Homo sapiens: one gene and its partners. The protein of the gene in region 4 interacts with the protein of the main gene of each other region in a biochemical or structural test. Each region holds a gene or a part of one and is shown on either strand. Other genes may lie near its edges.

Region 1 (7,030 bases), on a different chromosome or scaffold from region 4:
CGGGGTTTCACCATGTTAGCCAGGATGATCTCGATCTCCTGATCTCATGATCCGCCTGCCTCGGCCTCCCAAAGTGCTGGGATTATAGGTGTGAGCCACCGCACCCAGCCTAAAGCACATTTTAAAGAATGGAAATAAAAATAAGAAAATAGATATTTTAATTTCCTTTAAAGAAAATGAAGTTTTAATTAATTTTCTTTAAAATAATAAAAGCATTTTCCTTTAAAGTGAGGAAATAGAAATGATTCACATCACTGCTATAAAAACTGAGAGAGCAGGAACAAATATCTTTACTAAGTAAATAATTACACAGGATTTTGGCCATAGTTTTGGAGTGAGAGATACACGTGAACCAGCAAACCATCTCTCCAAGGAGGATGAGGAAGATGCTTCGGGTCGATGAAGGGAAGGAGACAAATGGAAAGGTAAGAAGTGGGCAAGGGCAGGAGCCCCATACAGCAGACTGGTGGGAGTAGGGGAAAGACAGTGAGGTGGGAAAAGCAATCAGGGGCAGGAAGGAGGAAACCTCAGGAGCCGAACCCCATCTTGGTTTCATGCCAGTGCAGTCGCTCAGCCAGAAAGGCTGGCTGGGGTCACTGGGCTCCCATCACCAACGTCCAAGCTCTGCTTCTGCCGAAGTGGCTCCCAGGCTCCTTGCCTCTCCCTGAATTCTGCATATGCCCATCAAAGGGCCTCGCTGTGTCTCCAGCTAACTCTCCCTTTGCAGTGTTGGAAGACCTCTGGAAAAAACAGTTCCTCAACTTGTATTTTCAGCCCACCTAATTAATTCCTAAGAAAACCTGATTTGGGCAAAACTCTGGTGTTCCCACTTTTCCTCACTTGGAGCTGTCTTTCTGCTTTTGAAAGACACCTTTTCCTCCTCAAGCAAACTTTTAACCTTTCTGTGTGGTGATTTCAGAATGCTTCATTTGATATACATTTAATCTGGATGTTGTCAAGGTATGTTTCAGTAGACTTCAAAATTATTATAAATTACTGGCTTTTCAAACTTTTTTTAACTTTATTTTTCTTGACAGATGTGACATTTTTACTTTAGTTTCTCCCTCTTAAATGAAAAAACTGTTTGATTTCTAAAGTTTAAAGTTTGCCTTCCCCCAGCGGGATGCTGAATTTCATTGTGGCTTGATGGCTGTTATACCCACAGATCAAAGGATCCTACATCATAAAGTAACATTCTCAACTAATGGGATTTTAGATATTACCTACAAAGGTTTGTTTTTGTTTTTGCTACTGTTAACATTACTAAAAATAACATGCACCCAAACATAACAGAAGAAAAAGTAAACTACAGATTTTTCTTCAGTTGTTTTCTTGAGATTTCTGCTTACCTGGTACAGATCATTTCTCATGTTGATAATGTCATCAGAAATCAAACCAGATGTGACTTCTAGTAGATCCCTCACAAGTTGAGAATGAAGGTGGATGATTGCTAAGTGTAAGACACTGGAATGAAAACACAGTGGCAATAATTAACTAAAATGTTAATGAAAAAGAAAAGATTCCCAAGATGTGATTAGACTCAAGAATGGAATCTGCTCTCATACCTAGTTTTATTTGGCCCTAAAATGTTTTGAATCTATAAAATGCATTGAATCTGAGGTGGGATGCTGTCTCCAGAGGACTGGTCCCTCCCAACTGCCTACCCAAGGCTGCTACGTTATTTGTGGTACCTTCCTGGCCTCTGGGAGCATTCAGGTCTTGACCCCTTGATGTATAAACACACTGAGGCTTCCAGCCCAGAAAGACCTAAGCTTAAATCCCAATCCTGCCTCTATACCATGGCTTTGGGCGGTTTTCTTCTCTACCTTTCCCCCTGACTTTTCCTGACACACAGATTCTATGTAAAATGAATGCCTGGCACTAGGAATTGTTCAGAAAAACTTAGTTACCTCACTTAGCCCTGCTGCCCTCCTCCAAAATACAGTGTGGTGGTTTTTTAAAGATCTTTCCAGATCCCAAGAGTGGAGAATGGAGTGAAGCTTTTAACTACTGGAAGAAAATTCTTGCAGTAAACTTGTGAAGAAACAAAGTGATTGTATTTCCCACCACTCCTGCAAACATTCCAGCAAATATTCCCTCTGCCTGGAATGTTTTTGCTCCTTTCTTCTGCCTGAACAATGCCTACTCCATCCTTTATATTCCAGTTCAAACCTGACATCCTCAGAGAATACTTTCCTAACCTCCTAGGTGGAGCAAGTTGTCCCTCTCAAATTTACTGCTTGGTTATGCAACTGCAGTTTTCTACACATTTTTCTCGTTCTCTGTCCTGTCATCTCTGGGGCAGGTTCTGTCTGAGTCAGCCTTACAACCCTAGCATGCAGTAGAGGCACAAAAATAAGAATGATAGAAGGAACTTAAGAGCTTACGCTAATGAGGCTGAACATACTGGTGGTGTCAAAGTCACTCACAGGAGCGTAATTCTTTTAATTATTAAAAAACATACTATTAAAATTCAAAACAATAACAATAACAATCATTTTACCAGTGGCTACTATTTGTTGGGAGCTTTGATTTACCAGACTATGCTAAGCATTTGATATATATTGTCTTTTTACTATAACAATAATCCTATGAGTTAGGTAATATTATCTTCACTTTTCAGCTAATGAAACTGAGACTTGCAGGCGTCATATAACTCAGTCAAGGCCAATACGTGGTGAAGCTGGGATTCAAGCCCAGGCCTGTCTTACTCCAAAGCCATCTCTTAATCCCTTAAGCAATCCTGCATAGGGGATACATGTGCACTGTTCTAAAGACATTCAGATGAATGTCTAAGAAGATGACCACTCCAGAGCATGGACAGATTGAGGTGCAGAGCACACTAAAGCATCTCGCAGCAGCACTACATCTGGGACACGAGGTACAGGCTGGATCTTCTCTAAAATAAGCTATCAGGTGCCACTTTACTCAAGCCTCTTCCTTAGCAATAGCAAGTATATCGTACTTGGGATTAACTCCGGCACAGAAGAGCCTAAAAAACTAAATTGTGATTTTGCTACTTGAGAAATATTTTAAAACGGATGATCTCAGGGTTTCACTATTGCTTCTTGAAATGTGATACTGGAAGAAGACTTCTGAAAAGGGCCTAAACTCTGACATAGACATGATGCACATACACCAAGAAAAAGGTCATACTTCTAAAACTGCTCGAAAATTTCCATGTGCCGCTCAGCATTTCATAGCAGAAGTACATTCCCCCTCCCCCTCAAATCCTCACACCCTTATGGGAATTTCCCCAATAGCAGAAGTTTTATATATTTTTCTTTATTATATTTTCTATGATGACTAATGGCCACAGGATTTAAACTATTAGCCAAATATGACGAGCTGAATTAAAACAAGAGACTTGGGCTGTGATGGCCAAAAGCTGCCCTATACCTATGCTCTTATGAGGATCCTCTGGTCTCTCCAAGTCCCAAATCTGTGGCCTCTCTGAGAGCCGGCTTGTGTGAGTGTGCTTGGGTCTTAGGAGGGAACTTGCATGTGCCTCGCCTTGTATCCCTTCCAACAATCCTCCCTTCAGATATCAGCACTTCCTTTCTAACCTGTATGTGCTCATCTTCTTAGACTTATCAATTTAACAGGTCCCTGGAAATGCCACTTGAAACACTGCTGTACTGTCTTGGTTAACTGCTTTTTCTTGTGGTTGTATGCTACTGAATGCTAACTGGATTATTTAACCCTGAAAAAGAATTCTGCTGTTCATGGCTTTATACCAAGAAGGTTGTACTGGTTCCTCTCATACTGTATAACAAGGCCAGTGGTTATACCACATCCTTGGTTACGTTGCAAGGAATGAGAACAAAGGTGTCTCTGCTTGAAACCCTGAGGTTGTTACTTTCCTAAAGTGCTTGGTTTAATTTTTAAACTGAAGTCTAAAACACAGCACTCAAGAGCTCTTCCACAGAAAAGGATTTCTCTATGTTGATGCTATTTTAGGAAGGTTTTAGATAAGGCACTTGACTTGAATGTGAAGGCTGCTGTCTCTTGTTATTTTTATAGGCTTTTGAGATCATTTTAGAAGTCTCAATGAAAGGACTAAGAGAACTGTTTTAGAAAGAAGCCAGGTGGCTTTGCAAATACAATCTCAGTAATAGCAAGAATGGAAGGCATGGTGTTTGGAATGTTCCACTCCCACATATGGGCTGGAGCAGTCACAAAAGTCTGAAACAGTCATAGACTGATGACCATCAGAAGAGGGAGCAGAGAAGAAACCAGTAACTGGGAAATAATGACCAGTCCCTCTTAATCTTTCTGTTGTTGTTGCTGCCTTTATTGGGCTTTTTCTTGAGTACACTGTCATAAATATGCAGCTGGGATAACAATGCTTCAGGGATTTGGTAGGACTCTTAACAATTCTCCAAATATTACTTCAATAAACAAAGCAAGGCTTTTCAAAAAGTACCATTACCTACACACATCTTAGTTTTCTTGCCCAGAGAGATTCACTCTTAGATGAGTCCTCCAGCTACTACAGATTCCAACAGATGACAGCAGCAGGATGGAGCAGCAAATTGTGCTACTTAACCTTATTCACACATTATTTTTCTTCATCATTCCAGTTAGAGGACTCAATATATTTGAACAATTATTTTTATCTCTAGTCAGTATGCATTATACGATGCTCTTCTTCTTCCCCACCCAGGACAACCTATCATGCAAAAGTTCTGACTTACCTGTCCCCATTCTCATCCTGCACAGCAGTGAGATGGCGCTGGACGGCCAGCAGCATCTTCACGTCTCCTGTCACCGCGTAGTCGAAAAGGGCATTGGCATGCCTCTTTGCAAGCTGCATAGCCTTCTCTAGAAAGAGGTTATCTGTAAGGCAATGACCACAATCATAGTTGAGTGTTCCTACTTTTGTTTTATGGGTATGGCATGCTTAAGGACAAACTGACCAGCATCAGTGTTCTGACACCTTGACATATCATTTTAGTTGAAAATGTTCTTTCAATGCTTTTGGATTGTGTGGACTAGAAAAAGCAGAATTGGACACTGGGTCACTGACAAATATAGTTAGAGATTGATCTTAAAGAATCTGTGTATGATTTGTTAGAGGAAAAAAGTTTAGAAATGTATTATTTTAAGGGAACGACCATTATCTGTTATTTTAAGGAAAACAATCTCCAAACAATGTTAGATTTTACCATGATTTTAAATCACCAATATCTTGGTGAAATAATCCTTCATTGGAATCTCTAACAATTAGCTTGTTAGGCAATGTGTGAAAAAACACACATCTCTGCCATAAACAGAGACGTTCAATGAGCCACTCACGTTTTTGTAAAGTTTGTTCCATTAAGGTCAGGGAATGGCATTTGTGACCTTTGGGCCAAAACCTGTTTATGGCCTGCTTTTCATATAGCTCCCTAGCTAATCATGGCTTATACATTTTTAAAGGGGTGTAAAAAAAAAGCATATGTGATAGACACCACATGTGGCCACCAACTCTAAATATTTACTACCTTTGCTTTTATAGACGTCTTCTTAGTACGATCTAGGATGACCTAGAATCATGACACATATGCTAATAAGTATTGGTTCACAGTAAACGCAAAAGTACATTTTCTCCTAATCCTACTTCTTCAAAGAGGGCACAAGATAAAAAGAAAAGTTCCTATTTTAAGGCAAAGTTCTATTTCAGTATGACGGTTAAGCCAGAATCTAGACAGGGTGACTATTAAGCTTGTGGAAATACTTCTCTATTTATCTGTGCCAGAAAAGAAGTTGATTATCTCTCACAATACCCTAAAACTGCATGATTATGACTGGAGAATGTACATATAAATTTCTGTCCTTTACATTCAAAGATAACAGAGCAAAAATGGAAATCCCAGTGTGAATAAAATGATCTGACATATGCTTTTCCAAAGGCATACAGAACTTTGAAGAGTACACTAAACTAGATATTGATATATCATCTTTAGATTAGCAGATATCTTTCTGCACCTAGGACTGACCCCTCCCCAGCCAACCAACAGAACGTAATTTGTGTGCTCACTTACCCTGAACTCCAGCACTCTCTTCTTTTGTTCCTGTTGCATACGTTAGAGTGACCTCACCATTCCCAACGGTGGCCTCGCTGGGCTCCTGATCTTGCTCTGTGGTTTCAATAACTTTCCCAAAGAGGTTTACAGTGTTTTTGTCATCACTTTTGTCACAACCTTCAGGGTCCTTTTTAGATTCAGTGTCCATGGTTCCTAAGATAAATGCAAAAACATCAGATTTTTCTCAGTAAAATGTATTTAGTGATAATTCGCTATTCCAATGTAGGTCAGATAAAGGTAAGAGACAAGTTTGCTGCAAAAGGAAAAGAAAAATAATAATTTAAAATTCTTTTAAAAATGGTCATATCATAAATACCATGTTTTGGAGATATTCTAAACTCATTTCTAAAAATCATTTTTAGTATACTTCTAAAATCTTAAATCTCATTTTGCTTATTTGTAAAGGAGAAAAATGAAATAAAGCTCTTCTATGAATTGCAGGAAAGCTGAATTTTTAAAGTTCTTGAAAACAGAGCAGTTTTTTCCTAATGCTAATGAACAAAGCAAATCATAAAGACGTGTTGTCGACTCACATTCTTTAGTGTGGGAGTTATCCAGTGTACCATTCCTGATCACCCTCTTTCAGGTTCAACTATGTTATCTGACAGATACTATGAGAGCATCTAGCTTTTCTGCAGGAGACCTGCTTCAAATTCTTGTTCTGCCACTAACTTCTGTGTGCCTTCAGTGAGTACGAACATTTCTGAACTTTGATGCCTTTTGTGTGCAAAATGGAGTTACTATTTTCCATATAGAGCAGTCATGAAGATAACAGTTAAAACATGTAAAAGCACTTGGCACAAAAATAGGTATTCAATAAATGGGAAGACTTCTTTATAGTATTATTTCTTCCATGGGTACACTAGAATGGACCTGTAATATAAACTATCAACATGTGGTTTAACTGCAGCTTCTCAGGGGATGACTTGATGGGAAAAGACCGATCCTATAAAACTCAAAAT
Region 2 (7,439 bases), on a different chromosome or scaffold from region 4:
GGCCCGGCTCGCTGCTCAGCGTGGTCAGCGTGTGCGCCTGTGGCTGCTGCGGGGGTGCCGCCGGCTGCTGTGGGGGCGCCGCCTGCGGCTGCGGGGGCGCCTGCGGGGCCGGCGGGGCCTGTGGGGGCTGCTGCGGGGGTGGCGGCGGCGCCTGCTGCTTGGACATCCACACGTGGCCCGCGCTCGCCGGGGTGGCCGCGGTGCTGCTGATGCCGTAGCTGCCCGTGTAGGTGACCTGGCCGTGCGTGGCCGGCACCCCCGGGTGGCCGTTGGGCGGCAGGTACTGGTCAAACTCGTTGACATCGAAGGTCTCGATGTTGGAGATGACGTCGCTGCTCAGCTCGCCGATGTCCACGTCGCGGAAGTCGATAGGGGGCTGTCTGCCCCCCTCTGGCAAGGGGCGCCCCTCTCGCTTCAGGTCAGCCTTGCCCGGCTGCACGTCGGTTTTGGGGGTGGTGGGTGGGGTCGGTGGGCCCTGGGATTGCCCTGTGGACAATAAAAGAACAAGCACGAGAAAATCAACAAGGGCTGTGCAGACGCCCTAGTCTTAGGCACCCTCCGGGGACCCTCCCTCGCTGCTAAAGTGTAATAAGGGCCCGCACCCGCGCAAGAGGCGCGCTGCACCGGAGATAAGTCGCCCAATGATTAACCCGCCGGTACACACTGGACAGCCCCCTTTTATCAGGGGAGGGTCTGGGGCCCGGAGGGTCCGGAAGACCTAATTGCTACTTGTGTAAGAGCCCTGTGTGTGCTTTTGGGGTGGGGGAGCAGAGAAGAAGGGAGAGGTCTTGTAAGGCTGTTAAGGGCATTTTACCTCCCAATAAAAAAGTTAATCTCTTCGGATGCTGGGATTGAGTTGGGGTGTGTGTGTTTGTGTGTGTGTTGTTTGGATGCCTCTTAGGCTCTGGGTAGAGAGGGGAGCGGGACGGGCGCAAAGGGCAGTGTGTCCCTCCCGGGAAGCATAAAGTCCCCACGAAGAATCTCCCAGGCGGAGGGCAGGGGGTGTGCCAGGCGGGACGGAGATAGCTTGTCCGGTGGGGTCGAGGGGCGACTCACCCGAGTGCTCGCCGGGGGAGTGCACCTCGCTCATGCCGGAGGAGGAGTGTGGCGAGTCGGCCTGCAGCGCCTTGAAGATGGCGTTGGGGGAGATGTGCGTCTGCTCCGTGGCCTCCTCTGCCTCCGCCTGCCCGTTCTTCACCGACTTCCTCCGCCGCGGCTGGTACTTGTAATCCGGGTGGTCCTTCTTGTGCTGCACGCGCAGCCGCTCCGCCTCCTCCACGAAGGGCCGCTTCTCGCTCTCGTTCAGAAGTCTGCTCGGGGCGGGGCGGGGGGCACAGAGAAAAAGAGGGAGAGGGGTCAGTGAAATCCGCCAAACTGTCAGGTCGGCGGGGAGGAGGCGGCGACCCAGACCACTCGGCTTCCTCTGCACACAACTCCATCTTCCCTCCTGCCTGCAACCACAGCTCATAACTTTTCTTAAAAATAAATAAATAAATAAGTTATTGCAGTCTGACCTGAGCGGTCACTCCCCGCCCCCTCCCTCCCCTCCCCTTCTATTTCTATTTTGGAAACGCTGGAGATGAAAACGACTCCCGGTGCTGCCCCCTAAACGCCTTTGCTGCTCGACTTACCGCCCCCAACCCCAACCCCCTTTGAAAACTTTCCCCCAAATTACTTAAGCTGCAAGAAGGTCCCCAATTCTCACCCCCCACCATACACTCCCACCTATTTCCAGTAGCCTCCCTCCTCCCGCCTCCCAGTTCCTGCCAAGGGTCTCCTCCAACCTCGGTTTCTCCCTTGCCCCATCTCCGTGGACAGTGGGGCTGCACGAGAGAGTGCAGTTTTAAGAGGCCGGGTAGGAGGGAGGCAAGTTTCACTTCCCCGCCCCGATTGAGCTTCCAGGCGACTGGAGAGCAGGCTGGCAGCCCCCTCCTTCCGTCTCCCACCAGTCTTCGTCCATCCTCCAGCTACCTCCCTCACCTCTTCCACTTACCACCCCCCTCCTCCGCGTCCCCGCGAGCAGCCCAAGAACTTTGTCAAACTCTGAGCCACAGTTACACCCCATTCCCACTCCCAACCCCATCCCGCCGGCTCCCGGAACGGCAACTCCCGGGCGATGGGAGGCGGGGCGGGGCAAATCAGCCCTGACCAGCGCCCCCAGCCGCCGCGATGCCCACCCTGCCGCGCCGCCCCCGCCGGGTCCTACCTCCAGAGCTTGCCCAGCGTCTTGCTGAGCTCGGCGTTGTGCAAGTGCGGGTACTGGTCCGCGAGCTTCCTGCGCGCCGCCTGCGCCCACACCATGAAGGCGTTCATGGGCCGCTTGACGTGCGGCTTGTTCTTGCTGGAGCCGTTGACGCGCACCGGCATGGGCACCAGCGTCCAGTCGTAGCCTTTGAGCACCTGGCTGACCGCCTCGCGGATGCACACGGGGAACTTGTCCTCCTCGCTCTCCTTCTTCAGATCGGGCTCGCCCTTGGGGAACGTGTTCTCCTGGGGCCGCGTGTTCTCGGTGTCCGAGCCGGAGCCCGACGGGCAGGGCGAGCCCGCGGAGTCCTCGGACATGGTGGGGCTGGGGGCGCCGGACAGGCCCTTCTCCTGCTCGTCGGTCATCTTCATGAAGGGGTCCAGGAGATTCATACGCGGGCCCGGGGCAGGGGGCTGGTGGCCGGGAAAGGCGAGAAGCCGCGGCGGCTCGGGGACTCGAGGCGCGGGCTCCTCTCCCCTCGGCTGCCCGGATGCGGAGCAAGCGGCTCCCGGGGAAGCTGGCGCGTCGGCCGGCTACCGCGGCGAGCACTTAGGAAGGCGCGGGGTGGCCAGTTCACAGCTGCCCGCTCCAAGTGGGGGGAGGCGAATTGGAGAGGAGGAGGAGGGGAGGAAAAAGAGCAAAAGTGGGGGCGCTTGCACCCCTTCTCTTCTCCTCCTGCAAAGAAAAGTTTCCGGGGTTGAAACTGGCGAGTCTCCGCGCCACTGAAGTTTCCAGTCAGTTTCGAGCTCCGCTTTCGGCTCTCCAACTCCCAGCCCAGGGTCTCTTTAATAAATACTCCGCCTCACCTTAGAGCCACCCGCCAATCACAGCACAGCAGTCCCAGGGTTGGCAGGCAGCTGATTGGACCCGATTTTGGGGAGGGAGGAGGATTGTGGCACTGGGCTGGGTGACGAGGCGGGAGGGGAGGAGAGGGGAGGGGATCGCAGCCAAAGGGCGGACGGTAGGGTGGGGGGGCGGGGGGTGCTGCGGGGAAGGCGGGGGACCCGGGACTTCCAAGTGTGTAAGTTTGTCGTACTCTCGGAATGCCAGAATTTTAGTGCCTTCTCCGCGCGAATCTTGTGTGTGTGTGTGTGTGTGTGCGCGCAAGTGTGTGTGTCTAGACTAGGATCTACCCCCACCTCCGACATTTCTTTTCACTGCTCTCTCCGCGGCACCGGGGACTTAGCTGGAGTTTGCAGTATTCGAAAAGCAGCCGCTTCTTAATGCGTAGCCGAGTTTACGCGCCTGGAGCGAGCCTGCCTGCCTGCAAAAGTGCTTAGAAATAGTCTTTTGAAGCAAATGTTTTGGTGACTCAACGCCCGCTGTTCCTCCGTAATAATCCATATAAATAGATTAACATGCTCGGGTTCGCCGGGGCTGGTGCGGCTGGTCAGGATTCTGCTGCGCTTTTGCAAAGGGAGTCAATGGAAAGCAAAGCTAAGTCCCCGCGAAGGTTGGCAGCGGCGGCCGTGGCCACGCAGGAGCCCGGCGCTCTCGAGGCCGCCCCGCGCCACATCGACCTTGAGCTCTGACAAGTCATTCTCCAGCCCCCTCTACCCGCGACCCTGCCGACGCTCCTCAGTAACAGGGCTACTGCTCTGACGTTTTGGTCTTTGCCTCCTGGCCGGGTCAAAAACGTCAGCCGAGTCGCCCTGTCTGGGGGAGAGTTTGCTAACTGCTCTGGCTTTGAGAGATAGAAGTTTGCCAATGCGGCTGTCCCGGGCCGCGAGGCCCAGGCCGGTCACTTGGTTTGTAAAAGACCAAACAAATGGGCACCACCGCAGACAAAACGCTCCACTCTGGCGGAGTCATGCTGCTTGCCTGCTTTTGCTGGCATTTACGAAACACCTGAAGGGGTGAAGCGCCGGTGCTTCTGACTCTAGTCCGGTCGGTTCAGACCTGCATGTAGTTGGGAGTTCTGGGGGAGGCATTGGTGGTGTCTCTCATGTATTTCAAGTGTGATTTGAGCACAACCTTTGTGTTTACACGAAATGCTTAGAGCCAGGTTGGGTAAGTGCGGAGCTATCTGCTCTGGGATAGAAGAAAAGTCTTGGTCGCTTGCGGGTTCTGTGCTTTCAGAATCCCAAATAAACGCACAGCATTGGGAAACTCTTAATTTTAAACTCCCCCCCCCCCCCCACCCTTTTGGGCTCTTGCAAAAATTCGCCTCAATTAAATTATTGTTGTGGTGAATCGGCCCACATCATAATAAAAACTAGTTTTTTTTTCCCTTTCTAATTTGCGAAGTGAGGACACTATCACAAGATCCAAATCAATGTCCTTCCGGGAGAATTTCTTAAAATCTTGTTTTCTCTCGTTGTCTTCGGAAGAAGCCCGACATTTCTTATAGGAAATGGAACTCTTCATAAGGTAGTAAGTTACAGCCTTGTTCAACAGCATTTTTTTTTTAACGAATGTAACTTCTTCAAATGGGATGTTTCTGGTGCCCTATAGCTCGTTTACAAATTTAAGAGATTTGCATACAATAGCTTCGTATCCAGGGCTCTGTGATTACTTTCAGAAAGTGTAAGAACAGCATCGTCCTTTCCTAGGAGAAAAAAGTCCGCGTAGTGTGGACCTATTTCTGTGTCCCGGGTAGAAGGGCATTGTGTGTACAGTATAACTGTGTAATTCTCAGACACCTGATTCAGGAGACTCGGAGACCATCGGGCAGACATTTTAGCCAGGTCGTCTGTACTTAGTTGTATGATATTGTAATTACCATGTTTGCTGGAATAAAGTCAGTGAAGAGGGCTATGACTTTAAGATATTTTGGAATATTTCACTAAATATATGTCAAGATATATACGTATATGTATAAATATACTTTTAATGCAATTATGCAATAAGATACTAATATGTAGAGTTTTACATCATAAACGACGGGGATTTATACATTTCCCGTTGATTTGATGCAAGCATTTTTGAATTTTACATCTTCCTGAAAACTTATGAACAGGCGACTTAAAAATGGACTGCAGTTTTCATCTGTATCCAGAGGGGGCGCCAAAAGCCCAGAAACTGTTTCCAACTCCGAGAACCAGGGAAAACTTGGATGGTGGTGGCTGGGGGTGGTGTGTTCCAGTCAATCTGGACTGCTTTGCTGCTGAGATTTATATTTGCAGGAATTCCTACGCGATATTCCCTCCTGTGCGGATCCACCTCTGCGCAGCTCAGTGAGGGAACTTGTGTCTGTAGAGATCCGGGTGAAAAAAGAGCACTTGAGATGCCAGCCGTTCTATTCTGCGCAGAATTTGGGGACTGAGGCCAGGAGAAGGCCCCTATCCCCCAGGTGCCAAGCGTTGCCACCGTCAGGCCAAGTCTAGCGCGTGGCATTGTCAGCTCGCGAGTGGATCGGTCCTGCATTTCTGCAGGGGCCTCCTGGTGTCCACTCCCCTTTCCCCATTCAGGGGCTCCATTCGCTTCGTTGTGTCTTTCTCAGGTCGCCCCGACCCCTCCTCCCTGACCTGGGAAGACGCGCGCAGTCCCCGACCAGAGGACCTCAGACACAGGTAGAAGGAAAGGAACCCGCTCCTGATGTTCAGGTTACAGATCTGGAAACTAAGGCTGTTGACCCAGTGTTGGCTAGAGCATTTTGCCAGGGGCGAAAGGAGCCAGGGTCCTCCATCTGATGCGGTGAGGGAGGGAAAGGGCGCAGGTCACGAGGCAGGAGACGGAGGGCGCTTCTCCGTGTTCGGGACGTGCTTTCGGATACCCGCTCTTGAGCAAGCGCCGCGAGGTCTGCCGCCGGGAGCGGAGACACAGAGGTGCGAGTGGCTCCCCAGGGAAGCCCTCGGGAAACCGAGGTCTGGGATCTCCCCCTTTCCCCCTCTTGCACGTCCCGGACCGGCGCCGGGCTCAATTTCCCCAGCGGGGGCCGCCAATCTCTCCTCCGCGTCTACGCGGGAGCTGAGACCGGAGCCCAGAGTTGCTGGCGCAGGGCGAGTTTCTCGCAAACACTCAGTGCTCAGGATGGGGGTGAGGGATGCGAGCTGATGGGGTTCCTTTTACCTGGCGAATTAAGGACCACAACCTCCCTATCCAAACTTCCTTAGCAAAAGTGGGGACGGTGTTTAAATCCGTTTTCGGTAGGGACGCTTTTCTGTCCCTAGGGAAAGTTTGGTGGGGTGAGCAGCGGCGTCCCCCAAATATCTCAGCCCCGGACAATGTTCTCATTAGAGGTGATGGGAGAAGGGGTTACCCCTTGTCTATTCCAGTTCCCCAGGCCGGGTCCCTTGCAGGTAGAAGACTCCTATCCCTGGAGGGACAGGTCCCCGTGTCGCGGGCTCCCAGCCGCTCCTGTAATTAGTACATTTCGCTGGGCTTGGAGAGTGTTTATCGTCCGCTCTTCACGCCGGACACGAGTTTCTTGTGGAAGGGAGCGGCCGGTAAGCCCGTCTCTGGACTGGCGCTGGGCTGGACAGCAACAGCTAAGGGGAAAAGGAAAGTACCAGATAGCGTCGTAGGTGCGCAATAAATATCTGTTGACTGATCGAATAGATGTCACCTGTGGACGTGTTGCCCGAGTGAGTGCATGTCCCATCACAGCCGCCAGACCTCCCAGCGACAGTTGCGAACACGCGATGCTTGTGCATTCCTGCGTGTGTATTTCTCCCCACACGGGAGCCCGACTTTGGGAAGTTGACCGGCATGTGCCACTCAGGGCTGTGGAATCCCGACTCCGCTAAAACTGCAGACCAAGAGGCCCGTTTCAGTTTTCTTCCCTTTCCTGTTTTCGAAAAAAAGAAAGATGAGGTGGACGGGAGGTGTCGGGTGAGGGGGCGCGAACCTCCAATCTGCCCTGGTGACCTGGCCGGGTCTGGGGGCGTCGGGCGGCTGTAACACAGCAGGGCGCCCCGGGGGTACGGACCGGAGCCCAAGTCAGAGACCAGACCAGCTGGCTTGTCGTGGAGCTGCGGAGCCGATCAGGGAAAAAGGAGGGGTGGGAGTGGAAGGCCCCAGTCCCAAAGGGACAGCGCTCCCAAAGGGAGCGTGCTCTTTTTTCATTCTGGGTTTTGCGAAAATATCTGTCCTTAGCTGTGGCACCGGGGAGCCGCGCGTCATGCGGCTTCCCTCAACTCATCCCTAGAACGCCCTGCGGAAAATTTCCTAGGCCATCTCTTCCCCCTAACGCCCACTCCCACTATTTTAAAAAGTCTTTCAGGCATTTTTAGCTGAAGGTGATTTTGCCTTG
Region 3 (4,041 bases), on a different chromosome or scaffold from region 4:
GTTTCTTTACCAGTGTTATTGAAACTGCAGGTCACAACCATTAGTAGTGAAACTAGTTTAACAGGATCCAAGAGCAATTTTAGAGGACTTAGTTTGCCAGTAATGAATTTAGGGTGGGATGTATTGAATTGGAGATGCAGAGGAAACGCCCATCATGAAGGTTGAGAAGAGGTTAAGGATGGAGAAGTACATTTGAGATCTTACAGTGCAGAGGAGCTAATTAAAATCATGAGAATGGATGAAGTCAGTCACTTCTAACAAAATGTCGCAAACAAGGAAAGGACCCAGGAGTAGAACCTTAAAGCAAGAGCTACCAAATGGAACTAAGAAAGTATAATCCAAAGGATCCCTAGGAGTGGAGTTATCCCAGACATCGAGAGATGGTGTCTAGAAAGGGGATTGTTTATCTCTTGATTTTAAGAGAAATTACTTAACTATGAAGAGAAATTTTATTTAAGCCTTGTCAGGGGCATTTTGTAGCACTATAGATTCTTTTATAAATGCAAGCCATATCATATCTCATGTGCATAGAGGTGTATATGGTATATGACAGTTCTACAGCAAAGACAGTATCCCCCGGTGCTAGTGTTGTAATGGAGCCCAGCTGCATCATGCTGAATTACTGAATCACTTGATCACTTAAATAATTTTACATTATTTGTTAAATAGATTGGTGTGGCGTTTTATGACATGCTGCTGAATGTTGACCAGTGTAGCACCCATTTAAATTACATGGATCCCATCTGTGACTTCCTCTATCACATGAAGTATATGTTTACTGGTGACAGCGTGAAAGAGCAAGTAAGTTGAATTTGTTTAATTATTTTTAATGATGTTTAATTTAGAAAACTTGAACATATAGTAATAGACTTTTTTGGTTTGGGTGATTATTTTTATTTTGTCTAATTTTTTCTTTTAAGGAAAAAGGGTGGGTATGAGACCTTTTTAGGCATCAGAGGCATATTATTCTAGATGTAGTATTAAAGGAAATACATGTTATAATTTCTTGTACTTTTCCCCCTTGATATTTGCAACAGAAAATCTGAAAAAGACCTAGAGGGTTAATTAATAGTAATCTCATTAGGGAGAAACAGTGGGATATGGCTGCTGAAATATGAGCAGAGAGGTTGTTGTGTTATGAGTAAAGGAGGTCCTGCTTCTCCTGACACTCATGGTGACAGTAGACAAACCGCGGCATAACTAGAAGACTAAAGTCAGGATTCTAGACTAATCCTGACTAGAGACTAACTCATGAAAAGCATTTAGAGAATATGGGAATGCTTATCCTGAAGAAAAAAGTCCTAGGGAATTATTTATGACCTCAGCATTTTGGAGGGTTTTCATTTGGAATAGGTATTAGATTCGTTCTGTGTCACTTTAGAGGGTGTATGAATTCTGGTAAAGTTAAAGGGAGGCCACCCTGACTTAGCATATGAAGAGGAACTTCCTAATGGGGATGTCTGAAAGTAGAAAAAGACCTTGAATCATAACTGAGTTTCCTACGTGTAGGAAACAGAATCTGGGCCATTTTAAAGGAGTGGAGGTAGGACAGATAGGGAAAGTTAAGTCCATCCTCCTACCCCTCCCAGTACTTTAGGTTGAGATGCCAAGGAGGTTGACTCCTTTATGTCTCAGCAGCAGTGTCAAAGAGAGTTGACCTGTTCTCTCTCATGTAAGAAAGAGAGAAATTGTATCTGCTTTTGTTACAACACAGAACATGCAGAGAAACTGTAAAAGAAATTGTTTATTTGTTTGTTTTTTTAAAAAAAGTATTCTTTACATTTAGGCCTAAGAAACTTTAACACAAGGGAGTACAGAAAGGAAAAGGTCAAAGAGCATTTGAGTAAAGCTAAGAAAGCTGTGAAACGACTTGATGTGTTTGTCTCCTTAGTGTTTTTCAAAAGAGTAGATCTAATATTATTTAGTTAATTCCAAGTGTAAATCAAAACCAAAATAGTTTTATAGATAAATGTTGCAAACATGAGTTATTCAAAGAACTTTATAATTATGCTTCATGCTTCTGTAAAGATGGCATTTTAAAAGAATGATCAACTTGTTGGATGTATAAAATTTCCAGTGTAAACTCTGCTAGCTTTTGGTAGTGGGATGACTGGCTAGCTAGATGAGTGGATACGCCTTTGTAAGTATATGCATATATATGAATATACATATGGTACATGTACAGACATGCACATATAATATATAAGGGGTGTGTGTGAGGGAGAACGTATTGTTTCTCATGCAAGAAAGAAATCATTGTATCTGCTTTTCTTAAAACACAGAACATGTTAAGAAACTTCTCATCTACCCCACGACACTCCTTAGTTTATTGTCTCCGGATATGTGTAAATCCTGCTTTAAATGTGAGAAGTTGAAATTCTCTGATTAAAGTACGTTTTAATGTGTTTTTATTTCTTAGGTAGAGAAGATTATCTGTAACTTAAAACCAGCTTTAAAACTTCGTCTTCGATTCATCACACACATTAGCAAGATGGAGCCAGCTGCAGTGCCTCCACAAGCCATGAACAGTGGGTCTCCAGCACCTCAGTCTAATCAGGTGCCCGTGTCTTTACCAGTAACTCAGTGAAGCCAGACTGTACTGTGGAGAAAGTAGAAATATATCCGTCTTTGAGAGTGGACTCAAACCTTTTAAATCTGAATGCGATCACACTGTAGTGATATAGTAGAAGCAGTGATGATATTCAGATTGTTTTATTTTGATTCAAATGATGAATCTGTTGACACCTTATAACTCCCATCTCCCTATCTATATTTTTGTCTCTAAGAGATCAAGTAAGATACATGTTGTTCATATTCATAACAACTTATTAGAGCTATGTAGGAACATAGAGGTATCTGTGATCAAATGACTTGTCATTGGCACTTTCAGTCTTTCCTATTCTAGCCGTTGTTTTTGTTTGTATTTTTTATTATTAATGACATATTTAGTCTTCAGATATATTATTTTAAAGGCACCACACATGTAAAACAGTTATTACAAATATTTTATACATAAATCTCTTGGTAGATTTTCAGAATAATAGAGATTTATATCAAGAAAAGGAATCTAGATTTTGTTGCATTGTAGGAGCAAACAAGGCTTCATATTCTTTTTAAAATGACTTGAAATTTTATTATAAATTTCCATAGTTTCTATCAAGGTCAACTGGCAGTTTTATTACCTTTGCTATGGACTTGAACTTACTGTATAAAATTAGTTGGAAGCCATGTAAGAAAATAACATCTGAAAATTCTTGAACTTAAAATCATGCTTAAATGGTTGATTCTCCAATTTCTTTTTTTAAAAATAAGTTAATTGCTTTTGCAGGTTGACACTCTCACCTGACAGATGATGTAATTCTTCAATTTTTATAATCTTAAAATTTTTAAATTTTATATTTGTAAATACAGTACACATTTTATTTCTTGGATTTTGAGAGACATTGTTAATTTTGGGGGAATTGGCATTGCGAAAGACTTGAAAACTAATGAGTAAAGTCTGCTGAATGAATAAACCGTGTGATTGTTTCCCGACTCCATTGGAATGAGTGTCGGCTGTGTGCCAGGTGGTGTGCTGGCTGGGGTCAGTTGGAAATGGGGTACTCTGTGGTTCCTACACTACAGTTGGTGACTGACATTGGCCTAGGAATTAAGAGTTACAGATTCTTTTAAAAAGAACTAGTGAATTTAACCAACTGTATTTCAAATTCATATTTCTAAATACATTCCTCCTAGAACTTTATTTTCTTTGTAGCTCATGTAATTGCCATCACTAAATCATTACTGGCCATGCAAGTCCAGCTAAAAATTTATATAATGGTAAAAGTAATTTTTGCAGACTTACTCTTTTCTTTTTTTTTTTTTTTGAGACGGAGTCTCGTACTGTCACCCAGGCTGGAGTGCAGTGGCATACTCTGGGCTCACTACAAGCTCCACCTCCCGGGTTCACGCCATTCTCCTGCCTCAGCCTCCCTTGTAGCTGGGACTACAGGCGCCTGCCACCACGCCTGGCTAATTTTTTGTATTTTTAGTATTAGTAGA
Region 4 (7,968 bases):
TCCACCGCCTCCCAGCTCCACAGCAATGTTGTCAACTATGTCCAGCAGATCGTGGCACCCAAGGGCAGTTAGAGGCTCGTGTGCATGGCCCCTGCCTCTTCAGGCTCTCCAGGCTTTCAGAATAATTGTTTGTTCCCAAATTCCTGTTCCCTGATCAACTTCCTGGAGTTTATATCCCCTCAGGATAATCTATTCTCTAGCTTAGGTATCTGTGACTCTTGGGCCTCTGCTCTGGTGGGAACTTACTTCTCTATAGCCCACTGAGCCCCGAGACAGAGAACCTGCCCACAGCTCTCCCCGCTACAGGCTGCAGGCACTGCAGGGCAGCGGGTATTCTCCTCCCCACCTAAGTCTCTGGGAAGAAGTGGAGAGGACTGATGCTCTTCTTTTTTCTCTTTCTGTCCTTTTTCTTGCTGATTTTATGCAAAGGGCTGGCATTCTGATTGTTCTTTTTTCAGGTTTAATCCTTATTTTAATAAAGTTTTCAAGCAAAAATTAAGTTACGGATTGAGTGACTATTAAATTTCTTCCACCAGAGGTCCTCACTGTGTTTGTTCAGGAAAGGTCACTGGGGGAGGCCCAGAGAATGACAGTATTTTCCTGTCCTCAGGGAACAGCCAGGGTGAAGGAGGTGGGTGTCCTACACATGCATATGAAAAAAAATATGGCAAAATGGCACAGCTGGTGCAGGAAAATGAAAAAGGAATAGCATTCCAGTTCTCCGTGAAGCAGCTGAATTCTCTATCTGCAGCAGCATTCCCATTATCTTTTCCATCACTAAGAAAAAAAAATGGGCTGGGCACGGTGGCTCATGCCTGTAATCCCAGCACTTTGGGAGGCTGAGGCGAGAGGATCGCTTGAGCCCAGGAGTTTGAGACCACCCTGGCCAACATAGCAGGACTTCATCTCTACCAAAAAAAAAAAAAAAAAAAAAAAAAAGCCAGGCGTGGTGGCTCACGCCTGTAATCTCAACACTTTGGGAGGCTGAGGCAGGCAAATCACTTGAGGTCAGAAGTTTGAGACCAGCATGGCCAACATGGTGAAACCCCATCTCTACTGAAAAAAAAGATAGATGCAAAAATTAGCCAGGCATGGTGGCTCACACCTGTAGTTCCAGTTACTTGGGAGGCTGAAGCAGGAGAAACACTTGAACCTGGGAGGTGGAGGTTGCAGTAAACTGAGATCATGCCACTGCACTCCAGCCTGGGTGACAGAGTAAGACTTCTCAAAAAAAAAAAAAAAAAGCTGGGCGTGGTGGTGCATTCCTGTGGTTTCAGCTACTCAGGAGGCTGAGGCAGGAGGATCACTTGAGCCCAAGAGGTCAAGGCCACAGTGAGTCTTGATTGTGCCACTGAACTCCAGCCTGAGTGACAGAGTGAGACCCTGTCTCAAAAATAAAAATAAAGTGTCTTATGACTTTTTATCTACCCTTCTGCCCATGCCCAAGGCTTCACTGGGCCTCACCTGTCTTTGATCCTAGATAACTATTTGAATGGTAATCAGTAAAGTCTTTAGAACTTAGCACTAAATTCTGATTTCCTGGCCTCAACATGGGGACCTAAACAGTTAGCAATCTGGGTTTGGGAGTGGGATGAGGGGAGGGTTGGAAGAAATATTTAGTGTGTTTCATTTGCCTTTCTTAAATACAGGGCACCCCTGAAACAGGCTTTGTTCGCAGCTCTGCTCTGTCCTCGGATTTAGGTTATCGAACAGGCTTCCTCCCTCCCCTGCACAAGGGTTGGGAATGAGTCGATTTGCTTTCACTCAGCAAGAGCAAGGGACTAGTGGTGACCAAGTGGTAGACTGGAGAGGCCTCTGCCCCGTGGCACACAGCTCCACCATCAGAGAGGGTGATGTGGGTCATAGGTGAGGGATCTGGAGGCCCGGTATCGGAAGAGCTTCTCCAGGCACTGGCATTTTGACAGCAAACTGCTTCCGTGGCTCTTTCAGGACTGTTCCTGGCAATATGTTATTGGCAAGGACTATTTTAGGGCTATCCAGTTGTCTCCCCCTCTCCCCAACCTTTTATCTAGCTTATCAGTAGCTATCTTTCCTTGCTCTGTACAAAAACCTATAGCACCAATAGGCCCAGTAATCATGAAGGGTCAGTGCAAGGAAAGGCTGGAAGCCCTTCCTCTAACAGCCGTGCTGTGACTCCACTAACTTTGTGGGGTCTCCCATTACATAGCGTGGGTATCCTGAGCTGTGCAGCCTGCCTCACTCACCACCTTGGTACCTGACAGGACTACTGGATGTGCCTGTCCTTTTGTAGGACATTCTCCCATCCCAAAGATGAGGCTGTGCTGCCGTGTGGGCAAGCTCTGTGGGGAGAGGGGAGGCCAGTGGGTTGTTTTTGCCATCACAGAATACTGGGAAGCCCCTGGCATCCTGCTCCATAGCTCTCTTCACCACTATCCTGGAACCTTCTCCCCACCCCCATCCCCATGCCTCCAAGGCACTGACCTCAAATCCAAGTCTTTCTCACTTATCTCAAGCTGCCAGCCTGTAGGGATTCCTTATCTCAGCTCCATGTCAGCGGTGAGGAAGCCCCAAGAAGGCAAGGGAGCTGACAGCCTTCTCATTTTTCTCGTACATCCTCCTGTTCACCCCGCCATCCCGGGAGCCCCAGCCAGATGCTCTTCAGGGCAGGGAGCACGTGAGCAGCCCTGGGGCTAGAAGCCGGTTCTCCCACATTCCTGGGTGAGGGACTGGGTGGAGGGTGTGCCTGCCTCAGGCTCCTTGGGGGAGGCCCCCTGAAGGGCTGGGGAAAATCCTACTGAGCCCCAGGCTCTCCTGCCTGCACTGGCCCAGTGCGGGGGCGGGGGGGCGGGGGGATCCTGGACATTAACTCTCTCCTAGGCACCTGGGAGCTTCAGAGAGGAAGAAGGTAAGGTAAGAAGCAGATTCTCTGCGCAGGACTTTCTTAGTCCTCAGGCTATAGAGTTAAAGAAAGAAGTATCTGTAGAAGGTGGAGTCACCTTTTGTTTGAGTAACCGTTTCACCCACCCTGGCTGAGGGTGGCCAGGAACTCCCCAAGTTGTGCATTAATGGAGGGGGGTCACACAGATCCTACATTTTTTTGTTTTTGTTTTTTTTTTTTTGAGACGCAGTGATTACAGGTGTGAGCCACCGGATCCTACATTTCAAATGCATAAAAATCTAGATATGGGCTGGGCGCAGTAGCTCATGCCTGTAATCCCAGCACTTTGGGAGGCTGAGGCAGGCAGATCATGAGGTCAGGAGATCGAGTCCATCCTGGCTAACATGGTGAAACCCCGTCTCTACTAAAAATACAGAAAGCCGGGCATGGCAGCGGGCGCCTGTAATCCCAGCTACTCGGAAAGCTGAGGCAGGAGAATCGCTTGAACCCAGGAGTCAGAGGTTGCAGTGAGCAGAGATCACGCCACTGCACTCCAACCTGGGCGACAGAGCGAGACTCCACCTCAAAACAAAATAAACAAAATACTAGATCTGGAAGAGATCTTAGGGATTATTAAATTCAGACAACCTCATTTTTTATAGATGGGGAAACAAGCACAGACTCCAAGGGTCTCATCCAAGATCACACAGTTGCAGATGCTGGCTACAAGTCTCCTGCCTCAACCACCTGTATTACCCCATTCAGGGTCTCAAGAAGGGTCTATAAGACACTATCCATTGTGTTTCGGGCTGAGTCCATAGAGACAACCACAGACATGGGGGACTCTGCCCACAGGGAAGGCAAGGGCTCTGGCCATGGAGCTGGATGGGAAGACTCTGAAGCCCGAAGACATTGAATCCTGTGCAGGGAAAGAGCGAGGGTTTTGTGTACAACACACCTGCATACCTGGATGTGAATCTCAGCTCCACCCCTTCACCAACTCTGTGTGGCCTGGGCAAGCCATTCTAAGGGAACCCTCCACACTGCAACTTTCATGTCTATAAAATGGGAATAACCATGCATTCCTTACAGGACTTTTTTGGTGTGAGGATTAAATGAGAGAATATGTTGAAAAGTGCTTGGTAAATATATTAATACTATGCATTCCCTCTTCTTTGAATGACGTGACCCAGGTAGTCAGGCTTCTGACCACTAGAGGGCAGCAGAAGGTACTGGAAAACTGGGCCGAGTGAACCAGAGATTAGATGGGGTCCAGAGAGCAGGGATGAACTTACCCGTGTGGATTCTGGCAACTCCGGCAGGGAGGGCTCCAGCAGGCGCTGAGGGAAGAACTTTCAAGCAGAGCCGGGTCTCTTCAGGAGCGACTGCAGCAACCCTGATGCTTGGATGGAGTCCAGGCAGGTGATGGTAGTGAAGACCTTGCCAACAGAGTGGGCGCTGGAGAAGGAGCCCTTTAGTGGGGACCCTGGGGCCACGACTAGGCTGGCAGGCCCAGCCAGCACCAATTAATCCATGAGTATTGCCCAGCATTGAGCCTGGAGCACCTTCCAGCCCCTGGCCAGAGTCCTGGGTGTTCTGGGAAAAACCCCTAAACCTAGTAACTCCTCTCCCTACTAGGCCTCTTTGTTGCTGAATCTCTGGAATTTAGGGGCCAGCAGCTTTCTGACTCAGGTCAGCCAGGGGTTCATGTTCCCTCACTTGCCCTCCCCCTGCCTGGCCCATCTCTGGCCTGGCCCCTGGGAGGAATTTCCTGGGCCAGAGGGCAGCCGAAAGCACAGATGCCCACCCCAGCAACGTTCCCGCCACCTGCCCAGGCCAGTGCCCCGTGCCCAACCCCAGAGGGTGCGGGATGACAGACTCTGACAATCATTAAACCAGCCGGGCCTGATTTCCCAGCACTGCCTGCTAAGATCCGGGCCAAGTGGCACTGAATATGCAAATCACCTGGGGCCAGGAGCCCAGTCTAAAGGCCAGGAAATCCCCTCCATCCAATGAGACACCAGCTCAGGTTACTGCAGGGGACACACTATAAAGCCCTGAGCTCAGGGAGGAGCTCCCTCCAGGCTCTATTTAGAGCCGGGTAGGGGAGCGCAGCGGCCAGATACCTCAGCGCTACCTGGCGGAACTGGATTTCTCTCCCGCCTGCCGGCCTGCCTGCCACAGCCGGACTCCGCCACTCCGGTAGGATTCCCCGCCTGTCATTCCCTAGCCCAGCTCTTGGGAAACTGCAGAGGGGTCCAGAGGATTTGCAGTTCTGAACCTGCACACTCCAGTCTAGGATCTCCGAGCAAGAGCGTAGGTGTCCTGAGGGTCAAAGAACAGAGAGAGATTGTCTCTGGGAAGGCAGAATGGCCATGACGCCGCTAGTCTGGCTCCAGGGCCCCAGAGATCTGAGGAGGGAAGCCCAGCTGGAGGCTCCTGTGGTCCTGCCCTGGTCTGAGATCTTGGAGCCCTTCTTGAAGAGACGGTGTCCGCAGAGTTGCTGATCTTCCTGCCCCTGGGGGCTACTCTTGCCCAGGGTTGGGCAAAGCAGAGTAGCTGGGAGTGTAAGGAGAGGACCCTCGTCCCCTCACCAACCTCATCCTCTCTCCCCCTACCCACAGGTAGCCTCATGGCTGCAACCTGTGAGATTAGCAACATTTTTAGCAACTACTTCAGTGCGATGTACAGCTCGGAGGACTCCACCCTGGCCTCTGTTCCCCCTGCTGCCACCTTTGGGGCCGATGACTTGGTACTGACCCTGAGCAACCCCCAGATGTCATTGGAGGGTACAGGTGGGTCTCAGCGGGGTGGGATGGGGCACGGAGTGGGAGACAGATCCATCTAAGGGCCTGTTAGACAAATGGGGGAATAGGCAGGGAGGAGGGTCTCTAGGCAAATTCCAGGGCTAGAGGCTGAGACTTAGTGACTGAGGTGCTGGGGGTTGTGGGGCTGTGACAGGCAGAGGGAGGTGTCAGATACCAGGACAAGGGTGTTGTGAATGCTACCTCCTGCCCCTACTCTTGGGATGGCTCCAAGGGCTGAGGTGTGAATCCCCAGTGTGCTCCAGGAATGGGGCTGTGTGGGCTGGGAGTGGTGGCTCACGCCTGTAATCCCAGCACTTTGGGAGGCTGAGCTGAGCGGATCACCTGAGGTCAAGAGTTCGAGACCAGCCTAGCCAACATGGTGAAACCCCGTCTCTACTAAAAATACAAAAAAAAATTTATCCCAGCGTGGTGGTGGGCACCTATAATCCCAGCTACTGGGGAGGCTGACGCAGGAGTATCGCTTGAACCTGGGAGGTGGAGGTTGCTGTGAGCCGAGATTGTGCCATTGCACCCCAGCCTAGGTGACAGGAGTGAGACTCCATCTCAAAAAAAAAAAAAAAAATGGGGCTGTAAGGTCTGCTGGGTGGCCTGAGCTGAGCCTGTTTCCCTGCCTGGCCCTTGCAGAGAAGGCCAGCTGGTTGGGGGAACAGCCCCAGTTCTGGTCGAAGACGCAGGTTCTGGACTGGATCAGCTACCAAGTGGAGAAGAACAAGTACGACGCAAGCGCCATTGACTTCTCACGATGTGACATGGATGGCGCCACCCTCTGCAATTGTGCCCTTGAGGAGCTGCGTCTGGTCTTTGGGCCTCTGGGGGACCAACTCCATGCCCAGCTGCGAGACCTCAGTGAGTCCAGGCCCCTGGAGGCTGGGGAGCAGCTCCACATGTTGAGCTGAGTCGAGTTCAGTGTGGCCGTAGGCAGGCCCTGGAGCTCTGGGCCAGCTGCACAGCCAGAGAGAGCCCTTGAGGGAGGGATTAGGGGAGTGTGACCCTTCCTTCCTTCCTTGTCAGCTTCCAGCTCTTCTGATGAGCTCAGTTGGATCATTGAGCTGCTGGAGAAGGATGGCATGGCCTTCCAGGAGGCCCTAGACCCAGGGCCCTTTGGTGAGAACCCGTTTTCTCCTTCCTTCCCCAGCCTGTCTTGTCCCATCCCTGCCCCTCCACAGAGTGCTAGAGATGACCCCCTCCCCAGACTTCTTCCTCCCTCAATTAGAAAAATTGCAGCAGGTCATCAGACCCATGGGCAGCATCACCTGTCCTGGTCTGGTCCCCTGAGCCCTCTCTGAGTTCTCACCTCCTCTTCCCAGACCAGGGCAGCCCCTTTGCCCAGGAGCTGCTGGACGACGGTCAGCAAGCCAGCCCCTACCACCCCGGCAGCTGTGGCGCAGGAGCCCCCTCCCCTGGCAGCTCTGACGTCTCCACCGCAGGTGAGAGCTCTCTCTGGGCCACAACCTCCCTTCCCCGAAGTGTCCCTTGTTCCCTCTGGCTCCCAGCACCATAACTCAGGCCTTCTGGCAGGAACAGGAACAGGCTGGGAAGTGTGTCCTGAGAGCCAGCAGCGTGGTTGAGCAGAGGGTGGGCCGGCAGGGGACTTACTCTGACCCCGCCCCCCAGGGACTGGTGCTTCTCGGAGCTCCCACTCCTCAGACTCCGGTGGAAGTGACGTGGACCTGGATCCCACTGATGGCAAGCTCTTCCCCAGCGGTGAGTCGAGGGAGGTCCCCAAGAGGGCGTCCCATTTAGCAATGCACAGGGGGCCCGGCTCTTCCTGCAGCCTTTTCCTGTAGAGGGGCTACTCTCCCTAACTCCCCTCTTGCCCCTCCTTGACCTTCCACCACCGTCCCCACAGATGGTTTTCGTGACTGCAAGAAGGGGGATCCCAAGCACGGGAAGCGGAAACGAGGCCGGCCCCGAAAGCTGAGCAAAGAGTACTGGGACTGTCTCGAGGGCAAGAAGAGCAAGCACGGTGAGCTCCGGGGGCACGTGGGTCCTCCCTGCGCCGGGCTGAGCGGCTTCCTGGGGCACTGCGGGTTGTTGCAGGTATCCCTTCTCCCGTTTTCTCTGGCCTCCGCATGGCCTTTGGTAAGGCTGTGCACAAGCTGGGGGCTCTATGGTATCGGTCACCACCTAATTGCAGAGCCTGGCTTGGTGGTCCTGGAGAGGAGGAGGAAATAAGGCTCCCAGTGGGAGGCTCATGGTACCAGAGTCCTGTCCACTGACTCCAGTGTCCTGTCCACTGACTCCAGTTCTCTCTGCACTTGGCCACTGTCCTGCCCTCTG

What was found.
Region 1: the proteins of ELF3 (region 4) and NFKB1 form a complex in vitro, tested with the Homo sapiens proteins (one study listed by BioGRID).
Region 2: the proteins of ELF3 (region 4) and SOX9 form a complex in vitro, tested with the Homo sapiens proteins (one study listed by BioGRID).
Region 3: the proteins of ELF3 (region 4) and MED23 form a complex in vitro, tested with the Homo sapiens proteins (4 studies listed by BioGRID, with this or other methods).

Annotation. Positions count from the first base shown.
Region 1 is NC_000004.12:102,595,329-102,602,358, reverse strand, and holds part of NFKB1 (nuclear factor NF-kappa-B p105 subunit), read right to left. Parts: intron 6,222-7,030; coding exon 6,027-6,221; intron 4,840-6,026; coding exon 4,698-4,839; exon of another isoform or gene 2,624-4,697; intron 1,465-2,623; coding exon 1,350-1,464; intron 715-1,349; exon of another isoform or gene 328-714; intron 1-327.
Region 2 is NC_000017.11:72,116,590-72,124,028, reverse strand, and holds the start of SOX9 (transcription factor SOX-9), read right to left. Parts: upstream 3,010-7,439; 5' UTR 2,638-3,009; coding exon 2,207-2,637; intron 1,311-2,206; coding exon 1,057-1,310; intron 487-1,056; coding exon 1-486. UniProt on the Homo sapiens protein: Transcription factor that plays a key role in chondrocytes differentiation and skeletal development.
Region 3 is NC_000006.12:131,586,225-131,590,265, reverse strand, and holds the end of MED23 (mediator of RNA polymerase II transcription subunit 23), read left to right. Parts: intron 1-669; coding exon 670-801; intron 802-2,419; coding exon 2,420-2,587; 3' UTR 2,588-3,328; coding exon of another isoform or gene 3,329-3,346; 3' UTR 3,347-3,534; downstream 3,535-4,041. UniProt on the Homo sapiens protein: Required for transcriptional activation subsequent to the assembly of the pre-initiation complex. Component of the Mediator complex, a coactivator involved in the regulated transcription of nearly all RNA polymerase II-dependent genes.
Region 4 is NC_000001.11:202,005,645-202,013,612, forward strand, and holds the start of ELF3 (ETS-related transcription factor Elf-3), read left to right. Parts: upstream 1-4,942; 5' UTR 4,943-5,062; exon of another isoform or gene 5,063-5,176; intron 5,177-5,484; 5' UTR 5,485-5,492; coding exon 5,493-5,655; intron 5,656-6,312; coding exon 6,313-6,534; intron 6,535-6,699; coding exon 6,700-6,792; intron 6,793-6,995; coding exon 6,996-7,115; intron 7,116-7,206; coding exon of another isoform or gene 7,207-7,256; exon of another isoform or gene 7,257-7,302; coding exon 7,303-7,392; intron 7,393-7,537; coding exon 7,538-7,654; intron 7,655-7,968. Other genes in the region: RNPEP (aminopeptidase B), read left to right, coding at 1-72. UniProt on the Homo sapiens protein: Transcriptional activator that binds and transactivates ETS sequences containing the consensus nucleotide core sequence GGA[AT]. Acts synergistically with POU2F3 to transactivate the SPRR2A promoter and with RUNX1 to transactivate the ANGPT1 promoter.